Homo sapiens: one gene and its partner. The protein of the gene in region 1 interacts with the protein of each later gene in a biochemical or structural test. Each region holds a gene or a part of one and is shown on either strand. Other genes may lie near its edges.

What was found. Proteins that work in one complex are often made in the same cells at the same time.
Region 2: the proteins of PTPRCAP (region 1) and PTPRC form a complex in vitro, tested with the Homo sapiens proteins (one study listed by BioGRID).

What each region holds. Positions count from the first base shown.
Region 1 is NC_000011.10:67,435,010-67,439,049, reverse strand, and holds PTPRCAP (protein tyrosine phosphatase receptor type C-associated protein), read left to right. Parts: upstream 1-1,367; 5' UTR 1,368-1,430; coding exon 1,431-1,433; exon of another isoform or gene 1,434-2,699; coding exon 2,700-3,317; 3' UTR 3,318-3,540; downstream 3,541-4,040. Other genes in the region: CORO1B (coronin-1B), read left to right, coding at 101-379, 549-674; RPS6KB2 (ribosomal protein S6 kinase beta-2), read right to left, coding at 3,881-4,040.
Region 2 is NC_000001.11:198,645,540-198,649,039, reverse strand, and holds part of PTPRC (receptor-type tyrosine-protein phosphatase C isoform 1 precursor), read right to left. Parts: intron 1-3,500. UniProt on the Homo sapiens protein: Protein tyrosine-protein phosphatase required for T-cell activation through the antigen receptor. Acts as a positive regulator of T-cell coactivation upon binding to DPP4.

The sequences.
Region 1 (4,040 bases):
GAATGGGTTAACAGAGTGCAAGCCTGGAGGCCAGGGGAGGGATGAGGGGACCCTGATGGGGCCTCCTAACTGATCCTGACCTCCCCGGCCCCCTGCCCAGTCGGACCTCTTCCAGGATGATCTGTACCCCGACACAGCCGGGCCCGAGGCAGCCCTGGAGGCTGAGGAGTGGGTGAGCGGGCGGGATGCCGACCCGATCCTCATCTCACTGCGGGAGGCCTACGTGCCCAGCAAGCAGCGGGACCTGAAGATCAGCCGGCGCAACGTGTTGTCTGACAGCCGGCCCGCCATGGCCCCGGGCTCCTCCCACCTAGGGGCCCCCGCCTCCACCACCACTGCTGCTGATGCCACCCCCAGCGGCAGCCTGGCCAGAGCCGGGGTATGCACGCGCAGGCAGGGGTGGTGCTGGGAGCCCCAGGTGTGGCCCTGGCCTGCTGTGTGGGCTTCAGCCATTCGCTGTCCCTCTCTGGGGTAGTGGTGGGTTTGGGAGGGCTATGGCTTAGCAGCCCCTGACCACCGCCCCCTACCCCTGCTTCATGTCCCCACAGGAGGCTGGGAAGCTGGAGGAGGTGATGCAGGAGCTGCGGGCCCTGAGGGCGCTGGTCAAGGAGCAGGGCGACCGCATCTGCCGCCTGGAGGAGCAGCTGGGCCGCATGGAGAACGGGGATGCGTAGGGCCACAGCCACACGCCACCTTCATCTCCTCCGCCGCCCCCTTCCCACTCAGCTTCTGCCAGCGGGTCGCACCGGGCTAGCTGGCTGCCCAGAGCCTCTGAGGCAGCGCAGGGGTCAGTTCCCACCCCCACCCGTCCCAGGCCCAGGCCGAAGCCAGCGCCCAGCTTTCCTCACTGTTCCTGTGGAGGATGTCTACGCCCAGGCGAGCTCCTCGACCTCTGAGGGACCATCTCCCCGACCACTGCCCAGCCCTCTGCTCCCTCCCCAGAGGAGGCGGGAGGGTGGGCTCTATATTTTCATTCCAAATAAAATTCTCTTTCTAAAAGCCAGGCTGACCTGCTGCTGCAAGGGTGGGGCTGAGAAGTCTGGAAACCTGGAGACAGAGGATGTCACAGGAGTCACACATGTGCAGAAGGTCTGGGGGCAGTGAGCAGCCCCACAGGCATTGCTCCCCTGGATTGTCAGGCAGGGAAACTGAGGCAGAAGACCTGAGAACACATGCAAGGCTGCATCCAGCTTCAAGTTGGTGCTGCTTCTTCCTTGGAGGACAGGCCCGGCAGCCCAGCCTCCTCCAGAGAGACTGGGGAGGGTCTGGTGTGGACCAGGGGTCCTGCAGCAGGGAGGGGCAGGTGGGGTATGTGGGCAGGAAGCGGAAGCCTGGGCCACCCTTCACTGCAGACGAGCACTGAGCTCACTTCTCGCTCGACACAGCCAGAGCTGGAGGTGGGTGCCCGGCACGGAGGGGCCTGCGGACCAATGGTAAGCCTCGGAGCCCCCCGGGTTCTTGGGATGGGGGCCACAGGCGGTCGGGGCTAGAATGTCTGGGCCTGTGGAGCTAAGGAGGGCCCCACATTGGCCCCAGGGAAGAGGTGAGACCTAAGAGGAGTATGGCAGAGGCTGAACCTTTCTCTCACCTGAGCTGGGCTCCCTGGGACTCCAGGCCTGGCCCCCAGCACCCCATACCGGACCAGGCCCCTGTCAGGAGCCCTGGGAAGGCCCTTACCTGGTCTTCCTGTGAGCGGGAACTTGCATTCCTGGAGCCTGGGCGGACAGCCTGGGGTGGTGGGGGAGGCTGGCTGCACCTCAGCACCCCTCCCCCGACACCCCCCACCTAGCCTGTTCCGACCGCAGACTTCCTCTGGCAGCTGCGCCCGCCTCCCCCAGCCCCCCCCAGCCCCCGGCCCTGCACGCCTGTGGCCCTCAGGGACTGGGAGTGGAACGGAAACCCTGCCGCTGGGGCAGCCCCGTGGTGGGGAGGGAGGAAGAGGGGCCTCACGGACCCCCGTTTGGGGACCTGGCCAAGCAGAAGATGAGCAGTTGCCTCTGGGTGCATCCAGGCCCCTCCATCCCCCATCCCAGGCCTCAGGGAGAGCCAGCCCTGACACCAGCTAGCAACCTCCTTCCCTCCCTCCCATCTCCTCTCCCACCCACCCAGGCAGCCTAGACACATTTAATCCATACTTATTGAGCACCTACTAACATGCTTGACCCAAAAAGCCCCCGTTTCCTAGCAGCTTATTGTGGGGGGTAGATAAGACAATAGACATAAAAAATGAGTACAGTTATCTCCTGCGTTAGGTGACATGGAAGGAAAAAGGCACTGAGTGCTGGGGGGTGCTGGGGTGGGCTGCAGTGATAGACATCAGGGTAGAGGTTAAGGTCAGGTTCAGCCTCACTGGGGTGAAGTTTGAGCACGGTGAGCAGGCCATGCAGCCCGGGGGAGGGGAGGATGGGAGGAGGTGGAGCTTTCCGGGCAGAGGGAACAGCCAGTGCGAAGGCCCCAGGCAGGTGGCTTAATGCAGCTGTTGGGGGAGGTGAGTGGTAGGGAGGAGGCTGGAGGGATGGGGGCTGATCTCACAGGGCCAGAGCCTGGTTGACCAAATAAGGCCTTGGCCTTTTCTGCTTGGCTGTCCCAAGAGGATCCCAAAGAGAAAAAAACGAAAGTGGTCTTGGTCACCCAGCCTGCCCCACACCAGGCCCCACCCCAGGTGCTGAGCCCTCTGAGCCCCTGCCTGTCTCCCACAGGCTCTGCCCTGCACCTTAGGGCTCGGGATGCTGCTGGCCCTGCCAGGGGCCTTGGGCTCGGGTGGCAGCGCGGAGGACAGCGTGGGCTCCAGCTCTGTCACCGTTGTCCTGCTGCTGCTGCTGCTCCTACTGCTGGCCACTGGCCTAGCACTGGCCTGGCGCCGCCTCAGCCGTGACTCAGGGGGCTACTACCACCCGGCCCGCCTAGGTGCCGCGCTGTGGGGCCGCACGCGGCGCCTGCTCTGGGCCAGCCCCCCAGGTCGCTGGCTGCAGGCCCGAGCTGAGCTGGGGTCCACAGACAATGACCTTGAGCGACAGGAGGATGAGCAGGACACAGACTATGACCACGTCGCGGATGGTGGCCTGCAGGCTGACCCTGGGGAAGGCGAGCAGCAATGTGGAGAGGCGTCCAGCCCAGAGCAGGTCCCCGTGCGGGCTGAGGAAGCCAGAGACAGTGACACGGAGGGCGACCTGGTCCTCGGCTCCCCAGGACCAGCGAGCGCAGGGGGCAGTGCTGAGGCCCTGCTGAGTGACCTGCACGCCTTTGCTGGCAGCGCAGCCTGGGATGACAGCGCCAGGGCAGCTGGGGGCCAGGGCCTCCATGTCACCGCACTGTAGAGGCCGGTCTTGGTGTCCCATCCCTGTCACAGCCGCTCACTCCCCGTGCCTCTGCTTCCCAAGATGCCATGGCTGGACTGGACCCCCAGCCCACATGACCATGCCTCAGACTGTCACCCCCTACCAGTTCCCAAGTCCATGTGTACCCCGCTCACCACGGGAACGGCCCCCCCCAACCACAGGCATCAGGCAACCATTTGAAATAAAACTCCTTCAGCCTGTGGCCCTGTGGTCCTACAGAGACCCCTCCCTCCTGGACCAGGGGCTCCTCCTGGCACAATCCAACCCAACCCTGCCCCTAGGCATGCAGCACAAAGAGCCAGGTCAGCACCATGATTCAGCCCTTTAATCTTCCACGGGAGCAGTTGAGCGCGGGGCGTGGCGGGCGGCCCTCCGTGCCCATGATTCAGGGGCACAGCTGCCCCAGCAGACACACACTTTCATACGCACTCACACCCCACCCCCAGACACACCCCCAGGTCTCTGGAACTGGCCCAGGGTCCTGCTGCTCTCACAGCCGCAGGGACAGGGCTCAAGGGCTACCCTCACCCCCACCCGGCTTCCTAGCGCCCTGGACGCCCACGGCCCCTCTTGGACTTCTTGGTCCCTGAGGGGGGACGGATGGGGAGAGGGGCGGTGGTCGAGGGCGGCGGCGGTGGCAGGAGTGGAGGTAGAGGTAGCTCCGTGGGCTCCGGCAGGCTGGGGCTGGGCCGAAACCCCTCA
Region 2 (3,500 bases), on another chromosome or scaffold:
TATGAAAAGATTATCTAGTGTCTACACTTCCTGGAATAAGATGAGAACCTTATGTGTTTTCCATGATCAAAGTGTTTAACAAAGGTCAAGTTACTTCCCTTGCACTTCAAAAACAAAAAAAAATCTAGATACTTTGGTGAATTATTTAATGTTTTTCACTTTATGTAATATCAAAAATGAGTTGGGTGGGGGAAAATCCATTCTTTCCATCATATCACTCACCTCAAGACAGACTCAGTCCTGTCCTTTGTTAGCCTCCTTTTCAGGATGATTGTAACACATCACATCAGTATTCATAGTGAAGACAAATTAATCAAAGATGTCTTTTTGTTTTTTATAAAAGTCATACAATCTTATGTGAATTTTACATAGATACAGAATATGCTAAAGATATAGAAGCAGCTCAGTGCACAATGGTTCATGTAAGTAGCTAAATCAGGTGAATGAACTTACATGCATATGTCACACAAACAACCTCTGAGAAATTACCAGCTCCCATTCAGTCCTGCTGTGATTTGCCCATCATCACACAGTCATGTCTTAAATTCCAGGTTATTAAACTGACCACTAAGAAGATTGAGTAACCGAGTGGAAAATCTAGAATCTGGTCTATCTAGAATCAGATAGACCCCGATTAAGACCCCAGCCTTCACCCCACCCCCTACAACTCTCATTTGCTATTAGCTGGTGACCTTGGAAAATTAGAAAGACTACCAAAAAAAAGTAAGAATTTGTTTGTGTGCTGTGTATTTCTGTATGTTTTCCCTTTTCTCTCCACATAAACATTTTTTCAGAATAAATTACAAAACAAACAAACCAAAACAAAATAGGACTATTGTCTAGTACCTCTTCACATCTACCAACTTTATTTATTGAATATCTAATAATAATCTACACAACTCAGTGGCAGCACCAGAACTTCCATAATTTAAAAGTCTGCAAAGAAAATCTGGTTGTAACAGGGACCTGGAGGAAGTCTTGTAAGAATATAAGTTTTACTTAATATGTTATATATAGATCTTAAGATAGTGATTTTTAAATTTATAATTTATAAAACATTGATAACACCAATAATTATCTGTAGCAAGGTATGTTGTTACTTTGAGGAGGAAGTTTTGGGGTGCTGATGAAGATTTTGGAAGATTTAAAACACCATCTCCAAGAAGCCACTGATAGAAAATACGGGCTTCATGGGATAGGTGTCCTCAGCCCAAATTACATGGAAAACACTCACAAAATAGTTGTTTATCAAATGAACTAATAAGTTAATAAATAACTGAATAGATCTAGTTGTCCTAGTCAAATGAAATACTCAAAAAGTTTTTAGATCCTGAGAACTGGAAACCTGAAATTCTTATTTTTCTATTCATTTCTATATTTTTCAAATTGTCTAGAATAATCAAGGTTTACTTGGGAAAAAATTGAACATGAAATTTCATACACAGCATGTGATCAAAAGATAGAGGAAGAAAAACAAAATGTTAGCATGGGCTCTAAGCAATTTCTTTTTCCTTCTATTTCTTGACATTTTCCAAATTTTCTATTATGTAGAAATTTTTACCATAAATAATTCCCATAAATAACAATAAAAGGACAGAATCAAAATTGTTTTTAAGAATTATTAAGTGCCTTCTACATACAGAGTTGGGTTAAGCTGACAGACCATTCGTTTGTTCAGCAAACAGGTACTGAGGACCTGCAGGCACTGGCAAATAAGCAGAGACCCAGTGATAGCCTACATGAGCTCACCAGTTGCTGCAAGAGAGCCTGGTAAAGAGAACTCCAAGAGAATTATTCAAAGGATCATCACAGCAGAAGAATACCTATGCAGGTGTGAAAGGGGCTGAAGAGCAAGGGTTATACAAGTGGGATAGGGGCTGTCTAGAGGACATGATCTTTACAGTAAATTTGAATACAATTTATAATTTGCACCATTGATAAAAAGATGTGGAGAGAAGGAAAAACAGCATGGCCAACAGTAGGAAGACCAAACAAGGTCACATTTTTAGAAAAATGCAAGTTACAAAAAGAGTCACAAAGTGGTTAGAGATAAAGCCAGACAAATCTGAAGAGATTCAATTACATATGTGTGTGCAATGCTAATTGCTTTTATTTTTCCTAAATGCACAAAGACCAAAGTAGGATGATTTGACACTTTCCCCACACACTATTTTACATTGAGAAGATTTTAAACTTATCACCTTGATTCTTCTCTTTACTTTTTGCTCCAATAATGAATAAGAAATTGGTACTAAGTGTGAAAGCTAATAAGAGGAATACCATACAAATGAATGAGAATTCAAACATAATAATTCCAGGCTATCAAGCAGTCTTAAAAGTGTTTCTAAAGTTTCTATTGGCTAGATAAGAAATAATCGAAAGTCTTAAAATTTCAAAATGAATCTAGCTCAAAGAGCTGTCAATCTCCACATTAATGTCACTGATAGAAATTTCAACACAACAAAAAATTGAGAATGGTTAATATTGCCCGATTTAAGTTTGACAAAAATGAAAAATTACATAAATTATATTTTTTGTAGCATTGAGACACAAAACCAATTAAAAAAACTAAACTAGCGGTAGCCAAAACTACACACAGAAAATGTTTCTGGCCAAAGAGAAGAATTTAAATGGTTTTGGAAAATTTAGATCTGTATTGTTTGAAAAGAAGAATTACCTTTAGAAAAGTAATAATCACAAAGGAAAATTCCAAGCATAAGCTATATTCAGTAGAACTTGACATGGGTAAAATGGATTCATGAATCTAATAGTTATTGTAAAAATTAAATGAAAGTGATGCTGCTAAACATTAGTTCAGTAAAATTAAAATTAAAATGGAAAAACTGCCAAGGATTTCACTAGGTAATATATATATAATCATCAGGGAATTAAATTGGTCTAATGGAGTTTTTTTCCTCCAAAATTTATCTTTAAGGAAAACTCATAAATGTTGGTATATTCTAATTAAATATTTGTTTTCATAAAAGTTGAGCCAAAACATACTTGGTATCAAATCACGGGTTCAGTATATTTTCTACCAATAGGAGCTTTTAAAAGAGGAATGGACAAAGGTAAGTTCTGCCTTTTACAAAGATTATCCTGGTAATGGTGGGTATGGACACAGTAAGGATTGAAGGCAGGTGAGACTTCAGGATATTTTTACACTAAGAAATCCCTGGCAAAGTAGAAGTGTGTGGATTTACAAACTATTTAGACTGTAGAATCTGGAGAAGCCTGAAAAATCTCTGAAATAAAGAATGCAAAGTTAAAAGAATTCAAAGGCCTATAAGGGATTATGCCTCTATCACTTAACCTTAAACTATCCCTTTATCTGCTCACAGTGTCTGAAAGGAAGAGATATCATTTGGAATCAAGTTTATGCTAAAAGGCTATGTGCTCTGATTTCATGGGCTCACATGAAAAAATTTACTTCTCAGAGTATCACATAATTTCAAAGCATTTTCACAAATATTATAACTTTTAATGCTTACAACACTTTA